Homo sapiens: one gene and its partners. The protein of the gene in region 2 interacts with the protein of the main gene of each other region in a pairwise test. Each region holds a gene or a part of one and is shown on either strand. Other genes may lie near its edges.

What was found. The genes of interacting proteins can lie anywhere in the genome.
Region 1: the proteins of DISC1 (region 2) and CCDC13 interact in binary tests that used the Homo sapiens proteins (3 or more experiments, as listed by UniProt).
Region 3: the proteins of DISC1 (region 2) and ZNF76 interact in binary tests that used the Homo sapiens proteins (3 or more experiments, as listed by UniProt).

The regions. Positions count from the first base shown.
Region 1 is NC_000003.12:42,763,254-42,770,253, forward strand, and holds part of CCDC13 (coiled-coil domain-containing protein 13), read right to left. Parts: intron 1-7,000. UniProt on the Homo sapiens protein: Required for primary cilia formation and promotes the localization of the ciliopathy protein BBS4 to both centriolar satellites and cilia.
Region 2 is NC_000001.11:232,007,757-232,014,885, reverse strand, and holds part of DISC1 (disrupted in schizophrenia 1 protein), read right to left. Parts: intron 6,102-7,129; coding exon 5,837-6,101; coding exon of another isoform or gene 5,732-5,836; exon of another isoform or gene 5,232-5,731; intron 1-5,231. UniProt on the Homo sapiens protein: Involved in the regulation of multiple aspects of embryonic and adult neurogenesis. Required for neural progenitor proliferation in the ventrical/subventrical zone during embryonic brain development and in the adult dentate gyrus of the hippocampus.
Region 3 is NC_000006.12:35,262,735-35,269,734, forward strand, and holds part of ZNF76 (zinc finger protein 76), read left to right. Parts: intron 1-7,000. UniProt on the Homo sapiens protein: May be involved in transcriptional regulation.

The sequences.
Region 1 (7,000 bases), on a different chromosome or scaffold from region 2:
TTAAATTCCTAGTCAGGTTACAGTTTACTACGTACAGAGAAACCTTTAGGCTGAACTTAGAATATATAAGAAGGCAGCTTTAGGCTACAGTTAGTTTAACACATCCCACAGACATTTTTGTTTGGCTCTTACAGAACACTATGTTAGGATTTGAATTTGTTGCCAACATTCAAAGAATTGTAGTTTCAATATCAGATTTCCAGTGTCAACAAAAACAGTCAAACTCTGTAAAATATTTGAAGAGATGTACTTTTTTTTTTTTTTTTTTTTAGATGAAGTCTCGCTCTGTCACCCAGGCTGGAGCGCAGTGGCACAATCTTGGCTCACTGCAACCTCTGCCTCCTGGGCTCAAGCAATTCTCCTGCCTCAGCCTTCTGAGTTGCTGGGACTACAGGCATGCACCACCACACCCAGATAATTTTTGTATGTTTTTGTAGAGACATGGTTTCACCATGTTGGCCAGGCTGGTCTTGAACTCCTGATCTCAAGTGATCCACCCACCTCAGCCTCCCAAAGTGCTGGGATCACAGGTGTGAGCCACTGCACCCAGTCTGAAGAGATTTATTCTGAGCCAAATGTGAGTGATCATGGCCTGTGACACAGCCCTCAGGAGATCCTGAGACCACGTGCCCAAGGTGGTCAGGGCACAGCTTGGTTTTATACATTTCAGGCAGACCTGAGACATCAATCAAATACATTTAAGATATATACCGATTTGGTCCAGAAAAGCAGGACAACTCCAAGGTTGGGAGGGGGGAGCTTCCAGGTGATAAGTAGATTTAAAATTTTTCTGATTGGTAATTGGTTAAAAGAGTTACTATAAATAGAAAGGAATATCTGGGTTAGAATAAAAGAGATAAAAGTTTTGATCATGCAAATGAAGCCTCCAGGTAGCAGGCTTCAGAGAGAATAGATTGTAAATGTTTCTTATCAGACTTAAGGTCTGTGTTGATGTTAAATGTTGGTCAACTTTTCCTGAATTCCAAAAGGGAGGAGGGTATAATGAGGCGTGTCCAACCCTTGCTTCCCATCAAGGCCTGAACTGGTCTTTCAGGTTAACTTTGGAGTGCCCTGGCTGAGAAGGAAGTCCATTCAGATGGATGGGGGGCCTCTGAATTTTATGTTTAGTTTACACCAGCTTCTTTTATAAAAGTTTACAGATCTGGCAATGCTGGGCCCATCGTCCCACACGGACAGCAGCTGCTATGCAGAGAGTTCCTTTGGTGCATAATAGGTTCTTTCCATTAAACCACTGTCCCTGCCACCTCCAGATGCTGCAGCTGGCACATCAGCTGCCCATTATCACTGCACATAAATGTTGTTCTTTCTCTTAAACCTGCTGGATTCACTTTTATTTCCCATCAGCCACAGCAGATGTTTTGGGTTTGTGGCTCCTGCTGTGGATTAAGCCCAGTGGCATCTCAGAGGCTGGCTTCAGCCACTCCTCTACCTGGGAGGCCTTCCTCCCAGGCCTCCCCATCCCAGCCCTTTACCTTCCCACTAACTCCCAGTTAGCCTCTAGGATTCCCCTCAGGGCACTCTGTGGACTCCCAGAATCCCTAGGGCACCCCTTGATCACTAAACTTAACCTCAGTGTATTATAATTATCTATTATTTTATTTACATTACTTCCCTTTACAAAGAGACCTCTTAAGGGCAGGGGTCCTAATACCTTATTCATTTGCTAAATCTCAACATCTTGCCCAGAACAGGCCTTCAACTGTCATTTGTAGAATTGTCACTGAATGAATGAACACAGTAACTTGTAAAGCTTTTCTCCTTTTCTACTCCCAATTTGCACTTGAAGTCACTGAGGAACTGGTACTCATTGAATGTACACTGTGCCCCAGGCAAATTACTTAACCTCTTTGCTTTCGTTTCCCATTTGTAAAATGGGACTCTGATACTTACGAACTTCACAGGGAGTTTGTGAGATTAAGTGGAAGAATGCATGGAAATAATTATCATTATCACTGTATGAAAAGTGGTGCTCTTGGCCCAACGGAGCCTCTGGGATAGACAGTAATGCCTGCACTGAGAGGACACCTGTGGTCCAGACCGGCCCCCAGAGTATTAGTATCTAATCTGTGCTATTCATGAGGCCAGTGGAGATTTGAAATTAATTATCTGGGCTGTGGCCAGGGTGTCTATTTTTATTTTTATTTTTTTGAGATGGAGTTTCACTCTCGTTGCCCAGGCTGGAGTGCAATGGCACGATCTCGGCTCACAGCAACCTCCATCTCCTGGGTTCAAGCGATTCTCCTGCCTCAGCCTCCCGAGTAGCTGGGACTACAGGCATGCACCACTACGCCCAGCTAACATTTTTGTATTTTTAAAGCTTCCCAGGTGAGCCTAACGTTCAGCTGGTTTGAGAATGAGAGGTGTTAAGCACTCTGAGAGGCTGTCTGGGGAGAGAGAAGCTGCAGGAGAGACAGGCATCTCAGTCAATTTGAAGCTGAATGCAGAAGAAATTCACCTGGGTGGGGAAGGGACGGTGCCTGAGTGGGGGGCAACGGGCTCTCCTGCCAGAACAGCATGTGCAGAGAATGTGATGAGTGTGGGGAACTATGAAAGGTTCAGAATGGCCAGAGGGCAGGGCACATTTGGGGAGGCACCAGAAGAAGGGTCTGATCTGCCCAGCTAAGGAGCCTGGACTTTATCCTGAGGCGCTGGAGATGTTCAGAGGGTGCACACAGGATCAGCTTTGCCTTCTGCAGAGCTGGAGGCAAAGGGCCTAGCTAGGAGGGGGTCTCTGGGAAGCCATGTGGGCCTAAATCAAAACTGTAGCAGTGGAGATGGAGGAGGGGGAAGAGGAATTGCTGCCAAATGGAAGGGACTGAAGGCAACTATGCAGAGAAGGAGAGGGGAGAAACCTAGGCGGTTTGGGTTTGAGTGACTGGGGAGACAGCAGGCCCTGACAGAGGAGCAGTTTTCCACGCTGCAGACAAGGTGGTGGACTTTGAGATGCTGGGTGGGCAGCTGGCTGGCTGAGATGCTGGGTGGGTCTGGGGTTCAGAAGGGAAGTCTGAGCTGGAGCCTCAGGTAGTTGAGACCTAGAGTATGAACAAAGCAGCATGAGGAGAAGGTGTAGAGTGAGGAGGTGGGAGAGAGGGAAGGAGAGGGAAGAGGAAGAAGAGACAGCTGGAAGCAAGTAACAGCCTGACGGGTTCATCTTGCCTGCTGTTCAGAAAACCAATGCACTAAAAACAGCGAGTTTTGCAGCAAAGAAAGAGTTTGATGGGCCAGTCAAGTGAAAGGAGGGGAGGTAATTCTCAGATCTTCCTCTCACTGCAGTGAGCCATGATTGCACCACTGCACTCCAGACCGGGGAAAAGAGCGAGATCCTGTCTCAAAGAAAAAAAAAAAAAAACAACCAACCAACCAAACAAACAAACTTCCTCTCCAAGAATATTAGCAAATTGAATCCAATGATGTATTTGAAAAATTATACCACATGACCAAATAGGAGTTACTTTAGGTATGCAAGGCTGGTTTAACATTAGAAAATCAATTAACATAAACCTATCACATCAACAGGCTAAAGGAGAAAAGTCACACAATCATATTAGTAGACACAGAAAAAGCATTTGACAAAATCCAATGCTCATTCATGATAAAAGCTCTAAGTAAACTAGGAATAGAGGGGAACTTCTTCAATTTGATTAAGAACATCTACAAAAAACATACAGCTACCACCATACTTAGCAGTGAGAAACTACACGCTTTACCCCTAAGACTGGGAACATGACAAGATGTCCCTTCTCTCTACTCTCTTTCAACATCATACTAGAAGTTCTACCTAATGGAATAAGCCAAGAAAAGGAAATAAAAGATATATATTTTGGAAAGGAAGAAATAAAATTGCCTTGGTTGCAGATGACTGATTGTCTATGCAGAAAATCTCAAAGAATCTATTAAAAAAAAAAAGAACAAAAAAACTCCTGGAACTTATAAGTGATTGCAGCAAGGTTGCAAGAAGTAAGGTTAATACACAGAAGTCAAATGTTTTCCCACATACTAGCAATAAGCAATGGAAAGCTCAAGTTAAAAATGCAATGCCATTTATATTAACACAAACATTGAAATACTTAGGTATAAATCTTACAAAATATGTGTAAGATCTATATTAGGAGAAATATAAAACTCTGGGAAAAGACTATAAACTATAAAACTCTGATAAAATCAAGAACTAAACAAATAGTTATCTCATGCACATGAATAGGAAGAATGAATATTGTTAAGATGTCAGTTCTTCCCAACTTGATCTATAGATTCAATGCAATTGCAATAAAGAAATCCCAGCAAATTACTGTATGGATATCGACAAATTGATTCCAAAGTTTATGTGGAGAGGCAAAAGATCCAGAATATCCAACACAATATTAAAAAAGAACAAAGGTGGAAAACTGACACTACCTGACCTTAAGACTTACTAGGCTAGGCGTGGTGGCTCACACCTGTAATCCCAGCACTTTGGGAGGCCGAGGCGGGTGGGTGGATCACCTGAGGTCAGGAGTTCAAGACCACCCTGGCAAATGTGGTAAAACCCCGTCTCTACTAAAAATACAAAAATTGCCAGGTGTGGTGGTGGGCACCTGTAATCCCAGCTACCTGGGAGGCTGAGGCAGGAGAATCGCTTGAACCCAGGAGGCAGAGGTTGCAGTGAGCTGAGATCGTGACATTGCACTCCAGCCTGGCCAACAGGAGCAAAACTCCATCTCAAAAAAAAAAAAAGACTTACTATAAAATGATAGTAATTAAGACAGTGTGGTATTGGTGAAGAAACAGACAAATGAATCAATGAAACCAAATAAAGAGCCCAGAAATAGATCCACATAAATAGAGTCAACTGATCCTTGACAAAGAAACAAAGGCAATGGTGCTGGAACAACGAATATCCATATGTAAAAAAGTGAATCTAGACACAGACCTCATCCCTGTCACAAATATTAACTCAAAATGGGTTATATACTGAAATGTAAACTGCAAAACTTCTAGAAGGTAATACAGGAGAAAATCTAGCTGACCTTGGGTTTGGCTATGAGTTTTCATATATAATACCAAAAGCATGATACATGAAACAAAAAAAATTGATAAATTCAACTTCATTAAAATTATAAACTTCTACTCTGTGAAAGATACTGTTAAGAAAATGAAAAGAGGCCGGGAATGGTGGCTCATGCCTGTAATCCCAGCACTTTAGGAGGCTGAGGCAGGCGGATCACCTGAGGTCAGGAGTTTGAGACCAGCCTGGCCAACATGGTGAAACCCTGTCTCTACTGAAAATAAAAAAATTAGCTGGGCATGTTGGTGTGCACCTGCAGTCCCAGCTACTCGGAAGGCTGAGGCAGGAGAATCGCTTGAACCCGGGAGGTGGAGGTTGCAGTAAGCTGAGATCACTCCACTGCACTCCAGCCTGGGCTACAGAGAAAGACTCAAAAAATAAAAAAAAATAAAAAACAAGAAAATGAAAGAAAAGAGAAGCCATAGAGACTGGAAGAAAACCTGCCAGACACATATTTGACAAAGGACTACATCCAACATATACAAAGAATTCTGATAACTTAATAATAAGAAAATACCCCAGTTAAAAAGTGGGCAAGGCCGGGCATGGTGGCTCATGCCTGTAATCCCAGCACTTTGGGAGGCTGAGGTGGGTGGATCACCTGAGGTTGGGAGTTCCAGACCAGTCTGGCCAACATGGTTAAACCCTGTGTCGACTAAAAATATAAAAATTAGCTGGGCGTGGTGGCAGGAGCCTGTAATCCCAGCTACTCAGGAGGCTGAGGCAGGAGAATTGCTTGAACCTGGGAGGTGGAGGTTGCAGTGAGCCGAGATCATGCCATTGCACTCCAGTCTGGGCAACAAGAGTGAAACGCCGTTTCAAAAAAAGAAAAAAAAGAAAAGTGGGCAAAAGATCTGAACAAACTCCTCAACAAAAAAGAAATATGGATGGCAAATAGACATATGAAAAGATGTTCAGCATCATATGTAATCAGGAAATTGCAAATTAAAACAAAAATGAGATACCATTACATACCTATTAGAATGGCTAGAATCCAAAACATTGACAACATCAAATGATGGCAAGAATGTGAAGCAACAAGAATTTCTATTTATTGCTGGTGGGGATGCAAAATGGAAAAGCCACTTTGCAAGACAATTGGGTAGTCTTTTTCAAAGCTAAACAGTCTTGCCATATGATCCAGTGATCATATTTACCTAAATGAGTTTAACAATATATCCACACAAAAACCTGCACATGAAATGTTCATAGTGAGAGGTGACAGCATGCTGGCAGCCCTCGCAGCCCTCGCTCACTCTGGGCACCTCCTCGGCCTTGGCGCCCACTCTGGCGGTGCTTGAGGAGCCCTTCAGCCTGCTGCTGCACTGTGGGAGACCCTCTCTGGGCTGGCCAAGGCCGGAGCTGGCTCCCTCAGCTTGCAGGCAGGTGTGGAGTGAGAGGTGCCGGTGAGAACTGGGGCTGCGCGCAGCGCTTGCCGGCCAGTGAGGGTTCTGGGTGGGTGTGGGCTCCGCAGGCCCACACTCCAAGCAGCCGGCTGGCCGCAAGCCCCTGGCAGTGAGGAGCTTAGCACCTGGGCCAGCAGCTGCTGTGCTCAATTTCTCACGGGGCCTTAGCTGCCTCCCCGCAGGGCAGGGCTGGGGACCGGCAGCCCGCCATGCCTGAGCCTCCCCCTGCCACCGTGGGCTCCTGCGCGCCCCAGCCTCCCCAACGAGCGCCACCCCCTGCTCCGCAGCACCTGGTCCCATCAAAAGCCCAAGGGCTGAGGAGTGCGGGCACACAGCGGGACTGGCCGGCACCTCCGCCTGGGGCCCTGGTGCAGGATCCACTGGGTGAACCTAGCTGGGCTCCTGAGTCTAGTGGGGACTTGGAGAACCTTTGTGTCTAGCTAAGGGATTGTGAGTGCACCAATCAGCACTCTGTATCTAGCTCAAGGTTTGTAAACACACCAATCAGCACCCTATGTCTAGCTCAGGG
Region 2 (7,129 bases):
ACAAGTGCTTGTTTCCATAAAAAGCAAGCTGGAAACCTTGGAAAGATTCAATAACATTTAAGAGAGAGGGGGAGGCTGAGAATTGTTTTGCAAGTGCTCTTAACGTTTCCAGCCCACTTTAAAGACACCAAAAGTGGAAACTGTTAATGATGCATGATAGGTGAGGTTTACACAACGAGGGTCATGTGAAAAGCCAATCAGCAGGCTCTACAAACAGAAATACTTGGTCCTATATCGAATGAATAGCAAATGAGAGGGCATGTTTTCAGCTAGAAACAAAAAGGTTTAAAATACGCATGCATCATCTTTTATGACTCTCTGTCTTTTCTGACTTTTTAATTAACCAACCAATTACCAACCCTGGTTGCATCCTGGTTGCTTCTACTGCTCTGCTCTTGGGAAAGATGGCTGGGTTTGCAAAACTTCAAAATGTAGTGGAGATAGAAGTTTTCTTCATGTCCTAGCTCTTTGCTTTCTCCCCAAAGACATTAAACAAAAAGAGCAAAACCAGCTGATGGGTAAGTGAACATTTTTCCCTTGTCAGTTCTTTTCAAAAGTGGGAGAGATATCAAGAGATCACACATTTAGGGATGTGCTCCTTGGAGAGTCAAAGTGAGTTTCCAGCTGTCCCAGGGCCAGTAAGTGTCAGAGAAGAGAAAGAATCAGATCTGCACCCATTATGGCTGAAGAGGAAGCACTTTTGCCCAATAAAGACATTTCTAGATATAGAAATCAGTTTAAGACAAGGAGGACAAACATCTTCATTGTGGATCACCTTTTCCAGCTTTTTTTATGTGAAATTGAGTAAAAAGGAATGGAGATATTTATGTTGTGGCTCACAGTATGATACCCCTAAGTGTGACACTTTGGTATGCCTGAGTACTTTGAACCAAAGGAGATTGGAAGGCCTCAGAAGCAAGATCTCTCTGCCTTCTCTTGCCCTCCCCTCTCACACTCCTTTTTCTCCCTGGATGCAAGCCATAGAAACCAGAATTCCTCTTCCTCAAAGCCAGTCTTAGAAACTAGGACTCCTCTCCCTCAAAGCAAACATAAAACCTAGAAAGGTCACTCTCTTCCTTCTCCCTTGAAGGCCCTCCATTTAGAGGAGTCCGGCCCCATACCCAAGAGGAATAAATACTATGCAGAGCGTCCAAGAAGAATCTGAACAGACAGGGCTTGCTGGTCCGCTCACCCCCCAGTCTATAACCATTAGATCATACCCATTTTGTCCAATCACATTCCTTCATAGCTGACTATTCTGCATTAAATCTGAGCATAAAAATAGTTTTTCCTGGGTCTTTGGGTCTTCATTTCTGAAGCCTCCTGTGCCATGTAAAACTCTGATTAAATAAATGTGTTATGTTTTTCTCGTTAACTTGTTTTTGTTATAGGAGTGTTAGCCCTTAATGATGGCTGAGGAAAGGTATCACACCTTTCCACCCGTAAACTTAAAATGCTTTTTGAAGACCTCAATCTGAACAAATGAGGCTACCTGGTTGCGTTGTGTCTTATTGCTAATTCCGTTCACTGCAGCTGTGTTCACACACTGGCTACTCACATACTGCACGCAATGACTCAACATTGCCAGGTCCTCTTTTGGCCTCTTTGGTGAGAGCTACTGGCTCAGAAAGGAAGCAGCTGGGATGAGAAGTCTGGGAGAGTGGTACTGTCCAGGGAGCCCATTATGTAGAAAAAGCAATGGAAACAGAAAGCACCCCGCAGGCTAGGTTGCAGACAGGAAAGAAAAAAATTACGCAGGTATTATGGCCAGAACAGCCCGTACAAAAGAGCCACTTCACAGCGGAGGAAGCCTGGCTCACTGATTTCCCTGGCTCCTGTCTGGCCCCCATTCAATTTCTGTAACATCTACGAACCAGGGCCAACAGCAGCTGATAGTTTCCAGAGTCCTCAGAAAGGCTTGGAGGAGAGCTGTCATGAAACTGGAAAAGAAAAGGGCTCTTACAATTCGAGGAAGTTCATGCTAAGATTGGCACTGAGCCCTGTTGCTGACTTCCTCTGTAACAAAGTCCAAAGCAAATTGCTTCACCTTAATGGGCCCAGCTGTAAAATGGGGGAATGGTGCTCAGCAGCCTGGCAAGGACCGTAGACCCAGGAAGGTGTCGATCAACGACAAAGCCCTTGTGATAACAAAGTATCACCAGAATGCACATCACCACGTTGGCCAGATAAGCACGGGAAAGGCTTTGAAAACTCATCTTCCTGTGGACCTCTATAAGAAGTCAGTAATTTTTCATGGAAGATTTGGGTCAAAAAGAAATTGACTGCCTTCAGGGCATCAAGCTTCAGTAGAGAAACCAGTATAGGATGGTCAGACCCAGCACGGAGTTCTAAAGCAAAACCAACCCAGAGCTGCAAAGCGAATAGACATTTTAGCCACAGGATAAATGCAAAGTACCCAGACTTCAATGGCTCCCGGAAAACACAGGCAGGAAAACAAAAGCACCTTCCTAATGAGGCCCTTGTTATCATTTCCCCATACCTTCTGTAGTCTAAAATCCTGGACCCGAATACAAACGGGAGTTTTCCTTCGTTAAACCTTTCTCTGACTGGGTATCTTCCACTAACTCATTGCTCATGTCTACTTCTTGACAAAAAGTGAGTATATTATACATGTAAAGGAAAATGTAACAATCTCAAGCACCCCCAAACTCCTTATGCAAAAGGGAAAGTTAAGCCTGGAGACTGAGTCATACAAACAAATAGCTGTTGCTAGCATTATGCATGCAAAAAGCATTTTAGAGATGCTTGTGACTGCCAGAAAGAGTGATAGAAACAAAAGTTAACACAAATTAGCCTCTACTAGGTATGCGTCTCTCACTTCGTGATGCATCCTTTTATTTAAATCTTCATCACAGCTTCATGAGATAGTTTTCATTATCCTCTTATGTCGTGGTGGTGTTTTTCTTAACAGATGTGGAGATGCGGCCTGTAAGAGGCCTAACTGAGGATCACGGCAGACTCAGACTCAAGCCTTGTGCTCTTTCCAGCAGGCCACACTGCGTTTTGATAGCCCTGAGACAAAAGCACTGACTCAAACATCTATAGCCCGGTTTTTAAATAGGTAGACATTTAAAAAAACTTTTTAAAATAATTGTTATAAAGTCATACACAGTAAAATTCACTCTTTCTGATGTAAAATTATGGATTTAGACATACACACAGTCACGTAACTACCACCACAATCAAGAGAGAGAATACTTCTATCAACCGCCCCCAACTTCCACGCACCAAATTCCTTCCTGTTGCTCTTGTAATGAGTCCCTTCCCCTTTCCTGGCAACAATTTATCTGTTTTCTGGCCCCATAATTTTGCCGTTCTCAGAAAACATTGTCTTAAAATCCATGGCACTCATGAATTCAGAGAACGGCTGCCCTCTCTGTGAAAATAAATCCAGCACTGCGATACAGGAACAGGGAAATGATACTGAAAGCCAGCAAAAGCTGTAAGGTCCCCTCTAAAGCACCCACTCACCCCCAAGAAAGCAACAAATAAATGTAGGACATCCTCAGCATTTCAATTGGTGGAGAGGATCTGGGAGGCTTTCTGGGGGACCCCTGGAGCACCCAAACAGCAGCCACCACAGGACCTAGGATAAGGCTCCACTCTTTTTTCATCCTTGACCCCAAGCTTCCTATTTTTCAACAAATATAGCTCTGTGTTCTTATAGCCAGATAGTGAAATTGACAGGTGCTTATAATGCTATGCAGGAAAACGAATCCTCCTATGCCTGGGAAAGTCTGTCCCCAGAGAACCTGGAGGGCTCAGGGCTCAGTGGGCAGGGCAGAGAAGGAGGGAGAAAGGGAGGGAGAGAGTGATGGGGTTCAGAATACACTACCCCAAAATATGGCACCTTGGCATTTGAGGAACAGCAGAAGCAGGAAAGTCTCTCTGACCTTCTGCAGCCATTCTTTCCTGAAGCAGGCCATAAATAATTATCTGACCTTCCTCTAAAGTAGATTATAACACCCTCATCTTTAAAGTGTACAACCTATACCCAAAGGAAAGGAGTATCCTTATCTCTGAAGACACAGGGATGCAGCGAAGAATCCGAGCAAACAGGCCTTGCTAAGCTCCCCCCAGTTTATTGCCATTAAATCATACTCCTTTTGTCCAATTATACTTCTCCACATCTGTCTGCTATTCTTCAAACTTAAGCATAAAAATACACTGGTTTCTGTTGCTTTGGGTCTTCATTTTTGCAGGCTCCTGTGTCATGTAAATTTTATATTAAGCACATTTGTACATTTTTCTCTTGTTACTCTGTCTGTATAGGTGCCTCAGCTGAGAACCTTTAGATGGGTAAAGGAAAGATATTCATTTTTCTCCGCTACAGGAGAAAGGGATCTCTGCTGAATCAGTCCTGGCCTCCAGCAGAATCAATGACCCAGGGACTCCATCACATACCTGGCATGGCTTCTGACTGCCCCACACCGAGCTCCTCCTGGTAGCTCACTTTGGAAAGCCAGACACACCTTCAAAGACTCATTCCCAGAGCCTGCAGTTTCTTCCACCCAGGAATAAACCCTTGCTTAGGTGGCACTTCCCTCCACCCCAGAATATTCTTTCAAGCCATCCACTTGCAGCAGGTGGTAACTTTTCAACACCTCTACCCAGAGCATTGGAGACCAGGCTTTGCTGGAGGATTCCACCTGTAGCACCTGGGTTAACAAACGAGTTCAGATGTCTATAAATTAACGTAGAGCCTGTGACTGGGCCAGCAAGGATGCAGAGTGACAGTGGTTGCTTTCTTATAAGACCATGGAATCCAAATATAGGATCAAGGATCGATTTTCTAAGCAGTCCAGAGGCAGTGACTAAGAACACAAATGTCTGCTCTCTGAAGGCCATGGTCCTGCAGATGGGATGTGAGACTGGCAGGGCTGGCCTGGGGAGGTGGCAATTTCCCCACCCACCAGTGGTGAGTCCTGGCAAAGACCCAGGGAGGAAGCACAGCTAACATCTAACATCAACCATGAGACTTGAAAGCCATGTGTCAAGTTCCTCCAGCCTCTCCATGCTATTTCCTTTCCACACTCACAACACCTGTGAACCTGGGCCAACAAAGAGCTCTGAAGACTCAGGTCATGGCACTGAAATCAGGAAAAACTTCCTAGGGCCTTTTTATGGAAAAGACTCTTGTTAGGGTGGGAGGAGGAAAGTGAGGAGTGGAAGGGGAAGGGAGAGAGGAAAGAGGGGAGAGAAAAAGAAAGTTAAATAAAACCATATTTTAATTTGTAATACATATATCTCAGGCCAAACTTTAGTTGTGTTTATGAAAGAAGAACATTATAAACATTCATTATGATCTGGTTTTGGTAAAAACAATTAATGGGATAAATACATATATTTGAATGTTTCATTCAAATAAATAATAATATATTGTAATATATAGATTCTAAATATATAAACATCATATATGACATACAATACATAATGTATAGTATATATGTTAAATATCATGTATGGCATATATAATCTATAGTGAATATAATAACTATATTATATATGACATATATAATGTATGCTATATATGGTAATTCTATATTAGACTGCATATTCTAATTCTAGCCACTAAATTAGAATGAAAATGGAACTAAATATGCCAAAAGTTGGGTTTTTTTGCTCTTCTATATTTCAAACTTCTACAAAAATTCTACTTTATTTTGTAATCATATTCAAGAGTTATTGAAACTTTTAAAAGTTTATATGCTCAATGGGAAGCCTTCCCAATATTTATTGTTCCCATTTGGAGCATGGTCCCAAAGCACCCCTTAGAATAAGGGTCCCCTCTGGAGGCCATGTGAAAAGGACAGACCTCTTTCTGTTCACCTCCAGCACAGTGCAGAGAGGGGATGAGGTGAGTCTTCCATTCTTCCAATACCTTCAAAGGGGTCTTCCTTTTATCCTCGGAGTGGAGCCTGGGGGGAATAGGAGGAGCAGCTCCCTCTAAGTCATCCATCTGCCTCTCATCTTCTACAGACAGGCTTCCCCTGGCTTCCTGGAGCTGTAGGCTCTGGATAAGCAATCGACAAGCTTCCAAGTCAGCTTCCCACACTTTCCCAAGCAGTGGACACTTGCAGCTGAGACAGAGAGGAAACAAAGGCATAAAAATGAACTCAGTGATGTTTCATCATACCAAGTCGATAGCTTGTCTACCTGGCTAAAAGTCAGCTGGTCATCTTATACTTGATGACTTAATTTCACAGTGATAAATTATTTCAACTAGAAGATTCATCAGAGGGACCAAATTTGCACACCATCAAGTCACCATGAAATGTGCTGGTCCTTAGCTGCTTGGTCTGCAAAGGCATCCAAAATCCTATGTATTTTTCCAGACTCAGCAGCCCAATACAACACAGTTTCTGCTCATATATGTGTTACCAGCCCTACTGACTTGCTTTGAATCCTCAGACCTGTCCAACTCTTCCAGGCTAGATCAACTCTCTCTGTCCATTCTCCATCAACACACATATAACCAGGCCTTCATCTGACTAAATCATATTATCTTCAGAACTCGGCTTAAATAACCTTTTTGGGAGAAACATTCCCTGCCTTCCAACTGGAAAATATGATGGATCTCTTAGCATTTTTTACTTTTATTTCAGAGTATTTATGACAATTCTAATTATTTATGTGATTATTGTTTTCTTTTCCCTGAGGGCAGAGCTTGTAACTATGTTGTTCTCCACTCTATTGCTAGACTCTATTGTATTAGTCTGTTTTCATTCTGCTAAAAAGAACTGCCCAAGACTCGTTAATTTACAAAGGAAAGAGGTTTAATTGACTCACAGTTCAGTGTGGCTGGGGAGGCCTCAAGAAACTGACAATCATGGCAGAAGGTGAAGGGGAAGCAAGGCACCTTCTTCACATGGTGGCAGGAAGGAGAAGTGCAGAACGCAGGGGGAAAGAGCCCTTTATAAAGCCACCAGATCTCATGAGAACTCACTATCCTGGGAACAGCACTGGGGAAACTGCCCCCATGATTCAATTACCTACACCTGGTCTCTCCCTTAACATTTGGGGATTATGGGGATTACAATTCAAGATGAAATTTGGGTGGGGACACAAAGCCTAACCATATCATTTCACCCCAGCCCCTCTCAAATCT
Region 3 (7,000 bases), on a different chromosome or scaffold from region 2:
TCTTGATGTGACTAGCTTCAATGGAATCGGCTCCTTCCATCCCAGCATGAAGCAATCCTGTATAACTTGCACACCCTCCCATTCTAAGGCCTCTCCTCTCATACCCTTGCCCAGTATCCTGTGAGATCCTGCCTCTCAGATTCCTCCCTCACCTTTTCAAACCCGGATTGTCTTTCACCCTTCCACAGGGCCTCCTCTTCCTGCCTTCCTCTTATTTGTCCCCTCAGCCATCCTCACCTCACCAATCTTGATAATTGATTACAATATAAATCTCCCTTCCATCTCAGGTCTGCTCCTTTCTTCCTCCACTCTCTTGTGCATCTATCTCCAGGGCCATGCGTATGCCCCTGCTGCTTTCAGCTCTGCTTCCTTCATATGCTGCACTGTTCCACCAAACTTCATCAGTCTCTTCGGTTTATCCAGAGAACTACACTCTTCTCTGGGAACTTCTGATGACTTCTGATAATAGATCACCAAAGGATCTTGGTTTTTTAGAGGGCAGGGAGAGAGCCCTTTGAAGTCCTTCAGAATCAATCTAGCTGTGTCTCCTGGACACCCTCCCACTATCCTATCCTGTTATGAAGCTGCTTGCTGTATATGCCCTCAGAGTAGAATGCTTTGGGTGTCAGCTTCTGCAGGCACTGAATTAGCCCCATTGTTTTCCAAGCCCTGGGAAAACTTGATAATCCCCAACCACTGAAGTCTGAAGAGTCAGTAGCAAAATGTGACATCAAAGATCCACATCCAAAAGTCTATTCTGTGGGTCACCAAATTCCCAGGTCTCTTATAATGTACTTATTGGCTGTGCAGCAATAAATACAGCAGAAACTAAAACTAGAGTTGAGGAAAGGGTATACCCTGGGTTCTACAACTGCTGTGGGTGGATTTTAAAAAGGAGTTCTTGCCTTAGATTTGTTTACTTAGGGCACAGAACTTATTCTGCCTTGTATTTGAGTTATTTGTGTACTTTTCTCAACCCCACTCTGTGAGCTCTGTGAGAACAGAGACTAGGTTTTCTTTTTTCTTTTCTTTTCGAGATGGAGTCTTACTCTGTCACCCAGGCTGGAGTGCAGTGGTGCAGTCTTGGCTCACTGCAACCTCCTCCTCCTGAGTTCAAGTGATTCTCACACCTCAGCCTCCCAAGTAGCTGGTGTTACAGGCGCCTGCAACCATGCCCAGCTAATTTTTGTATTTTTAGTAGAGACAGGGTTTCACCATGTTGGCCAGACTGATCTCTAACTCCTGACCTCAGGTGATCCACTCGCCTCAGCCTCCCAAAGTGCTAGGATTACAGGCATGAGCCACTGCACCTGGCTGGTTTTCTTTATCTTCTGTCTTCATCTCTTCCCTCACATTTAGCAGGTAGTCAGTACTTACCTGTTGGATTAAATTAACTCACTCAGAAATTCTGCATCAGGTGTACAAAAGTAAAAGCAGTTCATGTCTACATTCATTTTGTGGACACAACACCCCTCCCCAAAGTTCTCCAAACATGATAATGGGCATGTCCCTTGATTTAAACGTCGGTAATTTAGACACTTCCTTTTTTAGTCATTGCTCGGGTGGGGGAATGGGTGTAAGTGCTTTTCTTTTTCTACTGTATTTCTGGTAAGATAGGTTGTTTGACGCAGTTGCTCAAATACAGTGGTAACAGCATCAGGGGCTGTCTTATATAAATCTGTTCTCAAGAAAACAGCTAGTTTGAAATATTTAGTGTGGGTTGCAGAGACGATTAAGGAACAGAGGAAACCAAGGAGGCAAAATGTTGGTAATTTTTGAAGTTGGATAATGGGTTCAAGAGGTTCATTATACCATTCTTTCCATTTTTGTGTATGTTGGAAATCCATTATAAAAAGATTAAAGGCAGGGGCAGCTAGGTGAACAAGTGCAAATTTAGCACTGTTCCTTGGAAAACACCTCAGAGCAAATGAGCTACTGTTTCTGAATCAGTACTGTTATCTAGGTTAAGTAGTATATTTAGTCCTAACCTTTCTCTGACCTCTTCTGTTTGTGAGATATCAGGATGCTAAATTTAAAAATTAGCACCCTGCAGAATTCTGTACCTAGTGGCCTGGGAATTGTAACATCCTGGCATCAAGCACCTGTTGCACTGCTTCTCAGCTTAGGTATGGTTTCTGGTGGAATAGGGCTGGACTGGACCTGAGAAGAGGGTGAGGCAGTAAGGAGGAAAGAGGGACTGAGGGCTGGAGAGAGACCAGAGCTCTACTAGGGTCTTCCCCTTCTTGCCTAAAGGTTTCAAGTTACTGGGAGATCCTAAAGGTATATATATTCATTCATTCACTGATTCATTCATCCCACAAATATTTGGTGAATATCTGCTGTGTGCCAGGTACTTTTCTAGGTACTGGGAATAGAGCAGTGAGCTCACTGTTTGAGGAATGGACAGGGTAGAGACAGACAATAAACAAATAAGTAAAATATATATTGAGAAAATTAAGCAGAGAAGGGAGATAGAAAGTGCCAGGAGTAGGCCAGGTGCAGTGGCACACACCTGTAATCCCAGCACTTTGGGAGGCTGGGTTGGGTAGATAACATGAGGCCAGGAGTTTGAGACCAGCCTGGCCAACATGGCGAAACCCCAGCTCTACTAAAAATACAAAAATTAGCCAGGCGTGGTGGCAGGCACCTGTAATCCCAGCTACTCGGGAGGCTGAGGCACGAGAATCACTTCAACCCAGGAGGCAGAGGTTGCAGTGAGCTGAGATCACGCTGCTGCACTCCAGCCTGGGCGACAGAGCGAGACTCTGTCTCAAAAAAAAAAAAAAAAGAAGAAGAAGAAGAAGAAAATGCCAGGATTCTGGGTGTTAAAATTTTAAATAGGGTAGTTGAAGAGGTTCCCACTAAAAAGGTAACATTTGAGCAAAGACCTGAAGGAAGTTAGGGGGTAAGTCAAGCATACATCTAGGGGAAATTTATTCCAGTCAGGAAGAACAGCAAACACAAAGGCCCTGAGGCAGGAATGTGCCCTATATATTCAAGAAACATGAGGAAGCCAGCCAATACGGCTGCAGTATATTAGTGAGAGAAGAAATGGCAGATGTTGCGGTGGGGGTGAATTGGGGGCAGATCACACAGGCCACTGGCTTGTAGTGTGAGTTGTGAGTGAGATGGTAGCCATTAGAGAATTCTAGGCAGATAAATAACATGGCCTGACATATTGAAAAGGTCATTGTGGCTGCTGTGTTGAGAATAAGCTATAACGGGGCAAAAATGGAAGGAGAGAAACTGGTTAGGAGGCTACTACAATAGTCTAAACAAGAGAAGTTGGTGGCTTGAACCCAAGGTGAAGCAATGGAAAGGTGAGAAGTGGTTGGCTTCTGGATGTATTTGGAAAGGAGCCAACAGGATTTGCTGATGGACTGGATGTGATATATAAAAGAAATAGCAGTTGAGGGTGGCTACAATTTTTTTTTTTTTCAAGACATCTCGCTCTGTCGCCCACGGTGGAGTGCAGTGGCGTGATCTCAGCTCACTGCAACCTCCGCCTCCTGGGTTCAAGTGATTCTTCTGCCTCAGCCTCCTGAGTAGCTGGGACTACAGGTGCATGCCAGCGCACCCGGCTAATTTTTGTATTTTTAGTAGAGATGGGGTTTCACCATATTTGCCAGGCTGGTCTCAAACTCCTGAACTCGTGATCTGCCTGGCTCCCACATTTTTGGCCTAAGTAACAAAATGGTAAAATTCCCATCTACTGAAATTGGGGAGCCTGGAAGGAGGGCAGGTTGTTAGAAGGAGGAGATAAGGAATTCACTCTTGAACATGTCAAGTTCGAAGTGTTTTTTGGATATCAAAGTCGAGATGTTGAGTAAGCAGCTGGATATTCAAGTCTTTTGGAGCCTAGGAAATGTCTACTCTCAGGAAATAAAAGAACACCATCACCTGGCAAGAGACAGCGGAGTATGGGAAGAACACTGGTGGTCAGGTGTTAGGCCCTGCTCTGCCACCAGGTAGCTATGTGATCCTTTGGGACTCCTCTGGCAACGCAGGCCTCTGTCTCTTCATCTGCAAAATGACTGCTTTATTTTATTTTATTGTCTATTTCTTTTTTTTTTTTTTTTTTTTTTGAGACGGAGTCTCGCTCGTCACCCAGGCTGAAGTGCAGTGGCGCCATCTCGGCTCACTGCAAGCTCTGCCTCCCGGGTTCACGCCATTCTCCTGCCTCAGCCTCCTGAGTAGCTGGGACTACAGGTGCCCACCACCGCGCCCGGCTAATTTTTGTATTTTTAGTAGAGACGGGGTTTCACCGTGTTAACCAGGATGGTCTCTATCTCCTGACTTTGTGATCCGCCCGCCTTGGCCTCCCAAAGTGCTGGGATTACAGGCTTGAGCCACTGCATCCGGCCCCTTATCTGTTTCTTTGACAAGGTCTTGTTCTGTCACCCAGGCTGGAGTGCAGTGGCGCAATCATGGAGGCTCACTGCAGCAGTGACCTCTCCAGCTCAATCAGTCCTCCCATGTCAGCCTCCTGAGTAGCTGGGACTACAGAGATGGGCACCACCACGCCTAGCTAATTTTTGTATTTTTGGTAGAGAGGGTTTCACCATGCTGCCCAGGCTGGTCCTGAACTCCTGGGCTCAAGCCTCCACCTGCCTCGGTCTCCCAAGGTGCTGGGATTACAGGCATGAGTCACCACACCCAGCCAAAATGACCACTTTAGACTAGGAATGAGTTGTGTTCTCAGCCCCTCCTATTGTGGGAGTTGATGAATTAAGTGCTTAGAATAAACATGATAATATATGTGTATCTGAGAGCATTTTGGAAACTGCTGAGTTCTACACCAGGTAGTGGTATTGGCAATAAGATTTCTTCCTTCATTCGCTGAAGTAATACCCAGTGAGTGCCTGCCATGTGGTGGGCACTATGTCACATGAGGATACGATGATGGAGAAGACGAATCTGTGCCCTCAGGGAGCACCGCAGACAACCCCCTGTTGTGGCTTCACTGCCAAGTGCAGACGAAACATGGGGCTGGAGTGTGACATTAGCCAGGGAAAGCTTGTTCCTGATCTGGGTCTCCGTGGAAACAGTGAACGTGCATGTCAAAGATGAGGCAAGATGGTAATCCCGATGAGGGAAAAGTCATCCACTTAGCTGGACTAGGGAAGAGTTGGGAGTGGTTGGGAAGGGTTGGAGTGGTGGGGGCTTCAGTTCCTTCCCTCCTCCATTCTTTCGTTCAACATTTACTTCCTTGCCAGGAGCTTCTCTTAGAAGCTCACAGTTCTGTGGTAGATGAAGAGTTTCATATCTGGTCTCAGGAGTTCAACTTAGATATTACAATAAGCAGAACTGAATCAGGATTCAAATCTGAGCTAAAGAGCTCAGTTAGCTATGTAACCTAGTAGTATTAATCATTTGGTATCTGTGGGCACATTCTTTGTTAGGTGCTAATTAGGCTGAAAGGCATGCTCTCCAGGAACTTAAATTATAATCACTGTAACAGAAAGTAAGAATGTTATTTTCCCCTAAAAGAGTCAGGTGTTAAGGAAAACACACTCCGTGGCAGTGTAACCCTTTAACTGCATCTGGAAACTGTCCCTGTGGCTGTGTTTATTCTTGTGTCATTTAGATGTCTACGTTTATATCGTGAGGAGAGTCTCTTTGACCAGATAAGAGTATAAGATATAGCTCATCCTAATTGACAAAATTAGTCACCCACAAAATTAGTTTAGAGGAGACATAGTCAACATCTACCACGTAATGGAATGGGGAAATTTTGTCCTGGAGAGTGAAAAAAGAAAAAACAAACAAACAAAAAAAACGAAACCTGGCCGGGTGTAGTGGCTCACACCTGTAATCCGCACTTTGGGAGGCTGAGATGGGCAGATCACGAAGTCAGGAATTCAAGACCAGCCTGGCCAACATGGTGAAACCCCATCTCTACTAAAAATACAAAAATTAGCTGGGCATGGTGGCGTGCAGGAGAATTGCTTGAACCAGGACCCAGGAGGCGGAGGTTGCAGTGAGCCAAGATCGCACCATTGCTCTCCAGCCTGGGCTATAGAACAAGACTTCATCTCAAAAAGAGAGAAAAAAAAAAAAAAAACCACCTGCAATACAAATCCAAGTGCAGCTGAAGCCATTGTCTTTAACAGATGGCCCTAACCTGTTTTGAGTGCTGTTTCCTAAAGCTGCCAACAAACTTCAAATGCCTTTTACCCTGGCAGCTATCAGTCAAGATATAGAAATGTGATGGTCTCACAAATCCTATGCAATTGTCTCTTTTGCTGGCAAAAGTATGAGGCCAGCCGGGTGTGGTGGCTCATGTCTGTAATCCCAGCACTTTGGGAGGCTGAGGCGGGTGGTTCACCTGAGGTCAGGAGTTCGAGACCAGCTTGGCAAACATGGTAAAACCCCATCTCTACTAAAAATACAAAAATTTGCCGGGCATGGTGGCAGGCGCCTGTAGTCCCAGCCACTGGGGAGGCTGAGGCAGGAAAATAGCTTGAACCTGGGAGGCGGAGGTTGTGGTGAGCTAAGATCATGCCATTGCACTCCAGCCTGGGCGACAGAGCGAGACTCTGTCTCAAAAAAAAAAAAAAAAAAAAAAATGTATGAGGCGTACTCAGGCTCCTCTCTTCCAGTTCAGAATCAGAAGGATTTGTGATGTTGGACAGGTCATTCGGGGTCTCAGGCTCATTATACTGTCATTACCTGGAAGCCAGAGTGCCTCTTTTCTAGTGCCTCTATTTGACATTCCCTTAGAGCTGGCCCTCTGGTGAATAGTTCATCCCTAAGAAGGCCAGATACAACTTGTTACCCTGGTACTATCTCACTTCATCACTTCATTTGTTGGGAGTTCCTGCTACTTTTGGATGGTTGATAAAGCATGAGACCCATACAGTTAAGATAAGAACCAAGGAACTGGGAGCTCTTTGAGGTTGTAGAACTGACTTGAGGCTTTGATGTTGGGGATTTGGCAGGGGTGCCTAAGACCAGAGTTCTTTCTCTGAGATCATCTTCTCAACCCAGGAAATACTGT